Homo sapiens: one gene and its partners. The protein of the gene in region 2 interacts with the protein of the main gene of each other region in a biochemical or structural test. Each region holds a gene or a part of one and is shown on either strand. Other genes may lie near its edges.

Region 1 (3,193 bases), on a different chromosome or scaffold from region 2:
TATCAATTATGCTTGGGTTTTCACACACTGGCTAGTAAAACTCCCAGCTAATTGTTTTATAAATCCCATATGTTGTTTATCTAATTAACGCAGGAAAGATAAAGTAATTGACAGTAAATGACTTAAGCAGTTATCTTTGGGAGAAAATTGTTTCTTTTATTTACACAGCCATAATAAAACCAGGCAGAACTCAAGGGTAAATATAAAGAAACAAACACCTTTAAGTCTTGTTTGCACTGTTTTTTAGAAGAATTAAATGTCAGGGAGTTTAAAAATTATTTTCTATCTAATGCCAGCTCTTAAAATGAAATATAAAACTTGTAAGAAAATATTCAAGCCTGTTTGGAAAGTAGCTTAAACTTTCTGACAGTCTTTCTTCCAGTGACCTTGTTTCGCAATATGTGATAAAAAGTAAAGGCTAATTTAGTTTTTAAAAGAAGGTCTATTGACTTAAAGCTAAACATTCATTTTTGATGTCCTAATCTGGATATACTCTCCAAAGTTATCTGATAATTGCTGAATTGTTCACTTGTCATTGTATATACGGTTTATAATAAATACTTTGAAACAATGAGTGGAGAAATTTAAAGCAAAGTGGATTTTAAAATTTATTGATCATTACTTTTTCATTAAAAAGAAAGTGTCCCAAAGAATATTTTGAAATAGAAAATAAAATTCCCATAACTTCATTACTGTAATGTGATTTAAATATTTGCAGATCCACTCTCAATTTCTGACCGTGTGCATCTATTTGTTGAGACTATAAGGCTTGCAACTATATAACAAATAGATGTTGTAATATTTCTATGTAGTATTTATATGCATTTTAGACAAGTATAGGATTAAAAATTCACTAGCTTATATACTTAATAGTTCTTGGTCAAAGGCTTGACTCTAGTTTACCAGAGACCTTAAAAATAGTGGTTTCTATGTAATATGGGGATATTTCCCAGAAATTTGCCCCAGATTTTAAGTAAATTGTAGCTAATTGTCTACCTTCTCAGTTGGCAGCATTCTTCCAGATCCACATTTTTTTTCTTTGCCATGATTTTGTAACTTGTTAAACATTTACACATGTAGATGTTTATAAATTTACTCCAGAAAATGAATGAAAAAAGATCCAGTCTAATAATTGAAACTTTATTCTTAATTCACCAGTTAGCATTCTTATTTTTAAAATGTCTGAAAGACTGTTAATTGGCAAGGTTTAAATATTTAAAGAATGAAGTTAAGGTGTATCTGTAGTGATCTGATTTTCTTTCCCCCTTAAACTTTTGAGAATATTGAAACCATGGGTCTGGGCTGGTGTTAAGTAACCAGAATTTGTGTTCAATTGGTATAATGTATCTGCCCTTATGTTCATGACTGGTTCTCATCTTTTAAGCATATAATCTTTGATATGACAGAAACTTTTCTTCCAAAGTGAGCAAAAAGCACAAGTATGTATCTCCTGAATAAGATTATAAACTGAAAACACTCAGTAAACTAAAAATTAAAAGATGGAATAGGATGAAGAGACATTTTGATTTATTCCTCTCACCTATCCATATTTTATGATCCTTCCAATCTCCATTTTCATTTCCTTTATTCAGGAGAACCCTCAAAGCAATAAAAAAGAAGAACTGGAAAGTTTGGACAGTTCCTGTGATCAGAGGCAAGATTTGCCCAGTGAACAGAATAAAGGTGCTTCTTTGGATAGCTCTCAATGTTCGCCCTCCCCTGCCTCCCAGGAAGACCTTGAATCAGAGATTTCAGAGGATTCTGATCAGGAAGTGGACATTGAGGGCGATAAAAGCTATTTTAATGCTGGATGATGACCACTGGCATTGGCATGTTCAGAAAACTGGATTTAGGAATAATGTTTTGCTACAGAAAATCTTCATAGAAGAACTGGAAGGCTATATAAGAAAGGGAATCAATTCTCTGGTATTCTGGAAACCTAAAAATATTTGGTGCACTGCTCAATTAACAAACCTACATGGAGACCTTAATTTTGACTTAACAAATAGTTTATGTACTGCTCTTAGGTTGTTTTGATAAAGTGACATTATAGTGATTAAATTCTTCCCCCTTTAAAAAAACAGTTAGTGGTTTTCACTATTTATAAAAAATTAATTTTGAACTTTTTGTTAAATTTTTAAGTTATAGCTTTAAAGGTTTTAATAGGACCTTCTTGAACGACTTTTCTGTAATCTGTTTATCTCCCACTTAATGGAAAGGCAAAGGGGTACCCCAAATCCAGAGGTGCCTACATTTCAGGCAGCCTTGGAGTATTTTAAAAGGAAAACATTCTTTACTTTTATATGACATTCTTATACTGCTGTCTCAAATCCAAAAACATTTCAGAGCTCTTGTCTCAGAGATGTGTGTTCTTTTTGTCAGAGATATGGTTGATGAGAATCTTAAATGCTTGTTTTGCACTATCACTTAGTACCTGTTTGACCAAGGTGTTAAGGGGATAGTACCTCCCAATTCAAGCAGAGAAACTGACCTGACTAAAGTTAATCGCAGATGAACTAGAAGTCACAGGTTAATTAAATGTAAGTAGATTGTAGATACTGTTTTATATCAAACAATGTTTATAATGTGTATATAGAATTGTTCACTGTAAAAAAAATGGCCAAAATGTGTTTTTTTTTTAATAAGTAACTTGACTATAAAATAAAGCCGTCCGTGGGACGACTGACCTCGTTGCAAGTCTAATTCTTTGATTTTAAAAAGTCTGCACACCTTTTCTTGACCTCCTGGGTGCTTGGCGCGGTGCTGGGCTCTGGGGACAGGAAGTGACTGGGGCTGGATCTTGCTGGGGCTCTCGTTCCGAGTCCCAGGACCGCGGGTGGGTGCCTGGAACGTGGGTTGGGGCCTCTCCCGGGCCGTTTGCCTTGGGGCTCTGCTCCTGCCGGCGGATTCTGAGCCTGATGGGTTCGAGTCCCGGGCACGCCAGGCGACGGGAAGAGCCGAGGCCCAGGCCCGCTGCGCCGTGAAGCGCGGGGCCGTCCGGACCCCATCGATTCTCCTCGGCAGCCGGGCTGGCCCTCGCCGTCCTTGACCGGCTGAGTCAACACCGCGTCATCCCTCGGCGGCCGGGGCTCGGGAACCCGCTCCGCGCGGCGGGGCCCGGGGTGGGGAAGTCCGAGTGGGGGGATGGGGGGCCCTGGCCGAGGGGAGCGGGGAGGTGGTTTGCGCTGAGAAC
Region 2 (3,500 bases):
GGGGACCTCTTGCAACTTCTTACATTAAGAAGTTAATGGTTGCTCATGTATGGAGCAATAATGGTCTAACTGACATAAAGTTTTATTTCCTTTAAAAAAAGATATTTCTCTAGACATTTTGAATGCCTAAGTTGGATGTTTGGCTCCCCTTTCCTTCCAGTGCCCTCTAGGCAAAGTTCTTAAGCATGAGGCACAAAGAGGGATATGACTGCGGGGTTTTTTTTTTATGGCATGTTTGCAGGTATGTTTGCCGACACCATATTGCTCATTTATAACATGGTGTTGGTCACCTTGTACAACCCCAACCCGAAGGACTTTCAGCTCTGTCCTTAAATTTAGAGAATGAGTGTGGAAAGGGAAAAGTCTGTCTGTTACAAGCTAAATCACGAAAACTTTTGATTATGCTTGTTGAGGACCCTTCTTCTCCGCGAGCAAGCCCTGCCCACTCGCCCCGGGAAAATGGAATCGACAAAAATCGCCTGCTAAAGAAGGATGCTTCTAGCAGTCCAGCTTCCACGGCCTCCTCGGCAAGTTCCACTTCTTTGAAATCCAAAGAAATGAGCTTGGTAGGTAAAGAAAACTGACACTTGCCTGTTTGGCAGTGTATTTTTCATTGTGGACTGGAGGACTCTGAAGTATTGGAAATGTGGGGGTTTTGCTGCTTGAGGGTTGTATTTTTAAGAGTTTAATAGTGAAACTCATCCTTCTGTTCTTTGTCACCATTCAGGGTTTACTTTTTCCCCTCAGTCATCTCTTTTCGGCCATGATTAGAGGGTGTACACGCATCTGTGTTCATTGCCTTCTTCTTCTTCTTCTTCTTTTTTTTTTTTTTTTTGAGACGGAGTCTCACTCCATCATCCAGGCTAGAGTGCAGTGGTGCAGTCTCAGCTCACTGCAGCCTCTGCCTCCTGGGTTCAAGCGATTCTCCTGCCTCTGCCCCCTGAGTAGCTGGGATTACAGGCGCGCGCGACCATGCCCAGCTAATTTTTTTTTTTTTTTTTTTGTATTTTTAGTAGAGATGGGGTTTTGCCATGTTTGTCAGGCTGGTCTTGAACTCCTGACCTCTTTGATCCACCCGCCTCAGCCTCCCAAAGTGTTGGGATTACAAGCCCAGCCTCATTGCCGTCTTACTTGGGGGATATGTTCTTGCCACACAGCTCTCTGAAACTTCCCAGTTGACAAATGGTTCAAACTTCTGAGATTCTTTTTTTTTTTTTCTGAGACGGAGTCTCACTCTGTTGCCCAGGCTGGAGTGCAGTGGCGTGATCTCGGCACACTGCAACCTCCACCTCCCAGGTTCAAACAATTCTCCTGCCTCAGCCTCCCCAGTAGCTGGGATTACAGGCACTCACCACCACGCCTGGTACCACCATACATTAGAGAGGGTGTACACGCATCCATGTTCATTGCCTTCTTCTTCTTCTTCTTTTTTTTTTTTTTTTTTTTTTTTTTTTTTTTTTTTTTTTGAGATGGAGTCTCACTCTGTCACCCAGGCTGGAGTGCAGTGGTGCAATCTTGGCTTATTACAGGGTTTCATGTTGGCCATGCTGGTCTTGAACTCCTGACCTCAGGCAATCTGCCTGCCTTGGCCTCCCAAAGTGCTGGGATTACAGGTGTGAGCCACCGCACCTGGCCTCAAACTTCCGAGATTCTTAAGTCTTCATTTTCTTAGGCTGGTCATTTACCTGGTAGACTGATCCTTAATATCGGGGCATGTCATAGAGCATGCCCCGATATTATGGAGCTCGTCAGATCAGTGATGCACAAAGGAGGCCCCAGGGGAAGCCAGGAACTGGTGCATCAGAACCCACTCATGTGGTCACTCATTCAATCAAACTTTGTAGACTGCATCATCTTTTAACAATAACATTTCATAACAACCCTTCAGTTAATCCTTACCTGGTCCCGGTAGGCATTATCCCATTTTACCGGTTGGGAGGGATGAATAACTTAACAAGGCTACACAGCCGTGGCTCATGATCCAAGGTCAGAAAGAGCTCTCTTTAGCCCGTGCTCTTTGCCACGCTGTAGTGGTTCTTGGACTGTGTTGTAAAGCACATGAAAGGTTGAAAGGCCAGAGAAGGTGCCCTGTAACCCTGTTACTGTCTGGTCTCCGAAAGGCCCCTTGCTGGTGTTCAGTCTCTGATCTGCACTGGTGGGTCCACTTTGGTTATGTAGGCAAGTGGGCAGTGACTCTTAACTCCAAAGTGTTGTTCTTTTTAGGCATATTGGTAAGGTTAGCCCTGGGGCTTTTGTCTCTGAGATACTGGCCCCACTCTCTCTCACCATTTGTCTCAATCCCAGGGCTACCTAAAAAGGAGACTTGAAAAGGGGTCTTCTGGCCTGGCGCGGTGGCTCAGGCCTGTAATCCCAGCACTTTGGGAGGCCAAGGCGGGTGGATCACGAGGTCAGGAGATCGAGACCATCCTGGCTAACATGGTGAAACCCCGTCTCCACTAAAAATACAAAAAAATTAGCTGGGCATGGTGGCGGGCACCTGTAGTCCCAGCTACTCAGGAGGCAGAGGCAGGAGAATGGCGTGAACCCGGGAGGCGGAGCTTGTAGTAGGCCGAGATTGCGCCACTGCACTCCAGCTTGGGTGACAGAGTGAGACTCCATCTCAAAAAAAAAAAAAAAAAAAGAAAAGAAAAGGGGTCTTCCTTGGACTTGGCGGCCAGGACATGTGTTTCTGAGTGCCTGGGAAATATTCTCTGGGTGGTCATCTTTCTAACTTGGCGTAGACCCAAAGTCCACAAGGCTGATGGAAAATACTTTTAAAATAAAATCTGCGGAGGAAGAAGTGTGATCATGTTCTGTGTCTCTAGCTCGAGTTTTAATTCTGGCAGGAAGAGGAAAGGTCAACATTTCTCGCTCACAAGTTAATGCTGTCAACATTGTGTGGATTTATGAAAATTGGCTGAGGGAGTAGCTAGAAGGTGCCCAGTGTCCCAGCTGCTGTTGTGATAAATTGTGTAATATGGCTTGGATTAAAAATAATACTCATTTAATTTGTTTAATGACACCAGCATGAAAAAGCCAGCACGCCTGTTCTGAAATCCAGCACACCAACGCCTCGGAGCGACATGCCAACGCCGGGCACCAGCGCCACTCCAGGCCTCCGTCCAGGTCTCGGCAAGCCTCCAGCCATAGACCCCCTCGTTAACCAAGCGGGTACAGCATCGCCTCTTGTTGTGCTTTGTTTGGTTTCTCCCATTCCCAGCTTGATTTGTTGTCTGTTAATGTTGTGACGCAATTGCCCTACAAATATGAAATGTACGTAGGGCCACCCTCCTTCCTATCTCTGAAAAAGCCATGATAAGAAACAGATGTTTGTCCTGGGGTTTCAGCAGCTGCACTCTGTTCAGTCTCCAACTGTTTACATTCAGCTTTTCTTTTTTTCTTGAGACGAAGTCTCGCTCTTGTCCCCCCAGGCTGGAATGCAATGGCGTGATCTCAGCTCACTGCAACCTCTGCCTCCTGGGCTTTGAGACGAAAGTCTT
Region 3 (3,500 bases), on a different chromosome or scaffold from region 2:
TCAGTTAAAGTCCATTTCAGTATACTGGCAAAGATCTATATGTGCATTTGAATGTAGCTATAAACCACGCAACACTAACAATTAGAAATACAACCTATGGCTATATGGAATTCTTTCAAACAATATAGAAAAGGAAAACACTTGGTTTTGGCATTTAAAAAATTTTAAATACCTATTAAATTGCCAAAACTTACAGGGAGCCTACTTCAGATTAGATTAAATTCTAAAAGAAGAACTGAAAAGTACATTTATATTTTAATTATAAAAAACAGTCTTTGTCATATATATTCCTCTGTGACTTCTCATTTTTCTTTGAGTGAAACAAAATTTCATATATACTTTTCATCATTTTGGTTGGAAGTACACATTATGTGTAATATGCTTTGGCAGGACTTACCTAGCCAAAGAAAACAAATTAATATTGGGCATACTGAGGGCTGTCAGGCATATCACAGACATGTCAATTTAACTTTGCTTCATTATACACCTTTTCTGCAAACAGTTGGCTAAGATGGTACTAAATAAAAGGGAAGCTACCAATAAATTCTCATATCAGATTGATGGCTAGTATAAATGTAATGAAAAAACAGCTTGCTTGCTTACTTATCTTTAAAAATGAACTGTAGGAATACAGATAGCATAGATAGCAATAAGTTTCCAAGAAAAAAATAAATTAGGTTCATTCAAATTTTTCTACTACCTTGAAAGTAAAATAGGTTTAGAAAGACAAAAGTCTCTGAAGTGGTGAACCTCAGTGGCTCTTATTTATGAAGTAAATAAAAACTTGAAGAAGTGGAGAATCCAAAGGAACACGGACAATCCACCTTTATCAGGGGACACCTCTTTTTGTTGCACTTTGCATATGTTTTCTGGAAAACAAAAAAATCTTACGCTTTCTTTTTGTATGGCATATTCAATATGCAAAAACAAAAGAAAATTAAAATATAAATTAAGAACTTATGTACAGAAAATAGGCAGAAGCACACTAAATTCTTTTTTTCCATGATCACAACAATACCTTTGTAAATGATAATTCCTTTTTCATCTACTCTAGAAAGATTTTACTCATTTTTCATGGCTTTTGAGAATTTGAACAAAGGATTCATTAAAGAAATATGTATTTTTTTCATACTCACAATGTGAGTTAAAATATCTTAAAAGGATACTTTTCAAGGCAGTTATTATGTAACAATATTTATAAGAACTTATGTTGCTTTGAAAATAATAGTAAATGCATATTAGTCATATATCCAGAACTGCATCCAAAATTAACCAAAATAACAGGTCATATAAAAAATTATAGACTGAGGTACTCATTAAAGAGAAAAAAAATAAACTGTGAGGTTGTTCAATTGATTGCCCTTTGCCCTCCATAATTCCAAATTATCCTAGTACATTAACTTCTCCAAAAATGTAAGATGGGCATGTTAAATTGTATTCATTTTCACATAAATAAAAGAATATTCTGATAATTTTTAATTTCTTTTCAGCCATTAATCCATTAAAACAGATCAGATATTTTGAGGAGGAATATCATACCCGTAACCAACTGTTCATGACCAAAGAAAGGGAAAGATGTATATGGTTGGTGAGAACCATGTCTTTTTCCTATGAGAAAGTGACTGTATACAGTTGGTGCTGGGTCCTATGAAATGACGGAAACATCCCTTTTATCCATAGACTTGAATGAGACCTGCCTCATCAGTCATGGGATCATAGTGTCACAGATGGAAAAGCAACTATCAGCTGAATTGTACTGAACTACACACTTGGCTAATTCATCTTATTGCTCTACACATCTAAAGGAAGGCTCATTCTGTTCTTGGAGTCTAGACAGCATCAGGAGTTGGGCTCAGGTGGGAGCATGTGGCCGCCTTTTTCTGTTCTCTCGTAGTCATTCAGCAAAGGGAGGTGAGGAACAAATGGACAATTTATGCACAGAAGCTCAGGCAGAGATTCTTTCCTAGGGTCAGGAATTTGTTGTTACTCAGTCATTCAAGTAGATTTCCGATTTCTCTTATGCTCTAGAAATGTCATTGTTATCTTTCATGCTCCAAAGTACTACCCGTAAATGATTAGGTGTGTCTTTCAATTCGTATGAGCCATGACCTAGTTTAAGCATTTTTTAATAGATAGAAATGGAGAACAGATCATCTATTTACATTAATGTGAATGATGATTCTTTTTTCATGTCTTTATATTGAACTATTCAGTTGGTTAAGTCTGAAGAATAAGACAAATAATAAGAGGTTAAAAACTCAAATTGTATTTTTTTATTTCTTTATTTTCTTATAGTGAACAAAACTTTAATGTCTAGAGCATTTATGAGGGTTTTAATGATTGGAAAATCTATCCTGAGAATGTGGTCACCATATGTGACAGCCTTGCTTTCTATCTTGTCTTCAGTTTCTGGGGTAAGTTCGGTGATATTGTCTATTGTCTTCCTTTGCTTACATTATAGAACTTCTCTGCTGCCACATTGAGATAACCTGAAGTGTGGGGGGAATGCCTGCTAAGTTCTAAAACACTTTCCTAAACACCTTCCCTTCCTCTATCCCGGCAGTATTTTCCTTTACAATTTCTGTTTCTATTCATCTGTTTTATTAAAGGGTCATTTACTTTGGTAAAAGGTAAGTGCATGATATTCACCCATATTTGCATACAGAGTACACCTGATTTTCCCTCTGAATTCCAAAGAGATTGCCTTCAACTTTTTATATTTGTTTTTCTTTTTGTTTCTGTTTGTAGTGCATTCTAGTTGAGTGCTTTTATAGTGTTTTCTTGATTGTTGTCAGTTTGGGATACTGGAGGCTGACATTTTTGCTAAGTTAATGTTACAGCAGAAAAACCTATGGTAAACTGGAATCTGGCTATAGTGCATAGAAGATACAACTTATGTTTGATTGTGTGTAAATACAGTTAGTTAGTTGGGGGTTTATCAGATAGCTTGGCAGAAAGAGAGAGGAGCAGTACAAACTGTTTTCAGTTAACTGTGCTGTTCATACACCTGATAAGACTGAGAGAGCTTTTCGAAATGCTGATAGGCTTTGAATAAGAAAAGAATAATCACTTCTACTGGCACCAGCTTATCAGGAATGAAGTAAAATGCCAACACTGTTACATTAGCAAAAGTAAATGTTTTAGACACTCTGTGCCTTTTTTCATTCAAGTTAAATAGGAGGGGTGCTTTTGAGTGTGCTGTTATGAATAGAGGGATTTATTACCTTGATGAAATTACAGGTGAATATGTTGATAAAAGAAACTTCAGCATCAACAGCAGCTTCTTTGATAAGCAGGTGCGTCTCTGCTGTACATTCTCTGGAGAAATTAAGTACTCCTTTCTCCACTCCAATTCTATTAAACATCATTTCTGATGTTAGAAGATGCAGTTATGCCCTATGTCAATCCAGTCTCCCTCTTTTTTCAGCAGATGGGTTACAGGTATTTGAAACTTAGCTGATCAGACTTGTAAAATGCTAGTGTGCTCTGGTTAAATAAGT

The links. Proteins that work in one complex are often made in the same cells at the same time.
Region 1: the proteins of TLE1 (region 2) and HHEX form a complex in vitro, tested with the Homo sapiens proteins (one study listed by BioGRID).
Region 3: the proteins of TLE1 (region 2) and ESRRG form a complex in vitro, tested with the Homo sapiens proteins (one study listed by BioGRID).

What each region holds. Positions count from the first base shown.
Region 1 is NC_000010.11:92,692,955-92,696,147, forward strand, and holds the end of HHEX (hematopoietically-expressed homeobox protein HHEX), read left to right. Parts: intron 1-1,592; coding exon 1,593-1,814; 3' UTR 1,815-2,693; downstream 2,694-3,193. UniProt on the Homo sapiens protein: Recognizes the DNA sequence 5'-ATTAA-3'. Transcriptional repressor. Activator of WNT-mediated transcription in conjunction with CTNNB1.
Region 2 is NC_000009.12:81,613,048-81,616,547, reverse strand, and holds part of TLE1 (transducin-like enhancer protein 1), read left to right. Parts: intron 1-413; coding exon 414-566; intron 567-3,026; coding exon 3,027-3,171; intron 3,172-3,500. UniProt on the Homo sapiens protein: Transcriptional corepressor that binds to a number of transcription factors. Inhibits NF-kappa-B-regulated gene expression. Inhibits the transcriptional activation mediated by FOXA2, and by CTNNB1 and TCF family members in Wnt signaling.
Region 3 is NC_000001.11:216,713,430-216,716,929, reverse strand, and holds part of ESRRG (estrogen-related receptor gamma), read left to right. Parts: intron 1-1,680; exon of another isoform or gene 1,681-1,856; intron 1,857-2,295; exon of another isoform or gene 2,296-2,414; intron 2,415-3,500. UniProt on the Homo sapiens protein: Orphan receptor that acts as a transcription activator in the absence of bound ligand. Binds specifically to an estrogen response element and activates reporter genes controlled by estrogen response elements.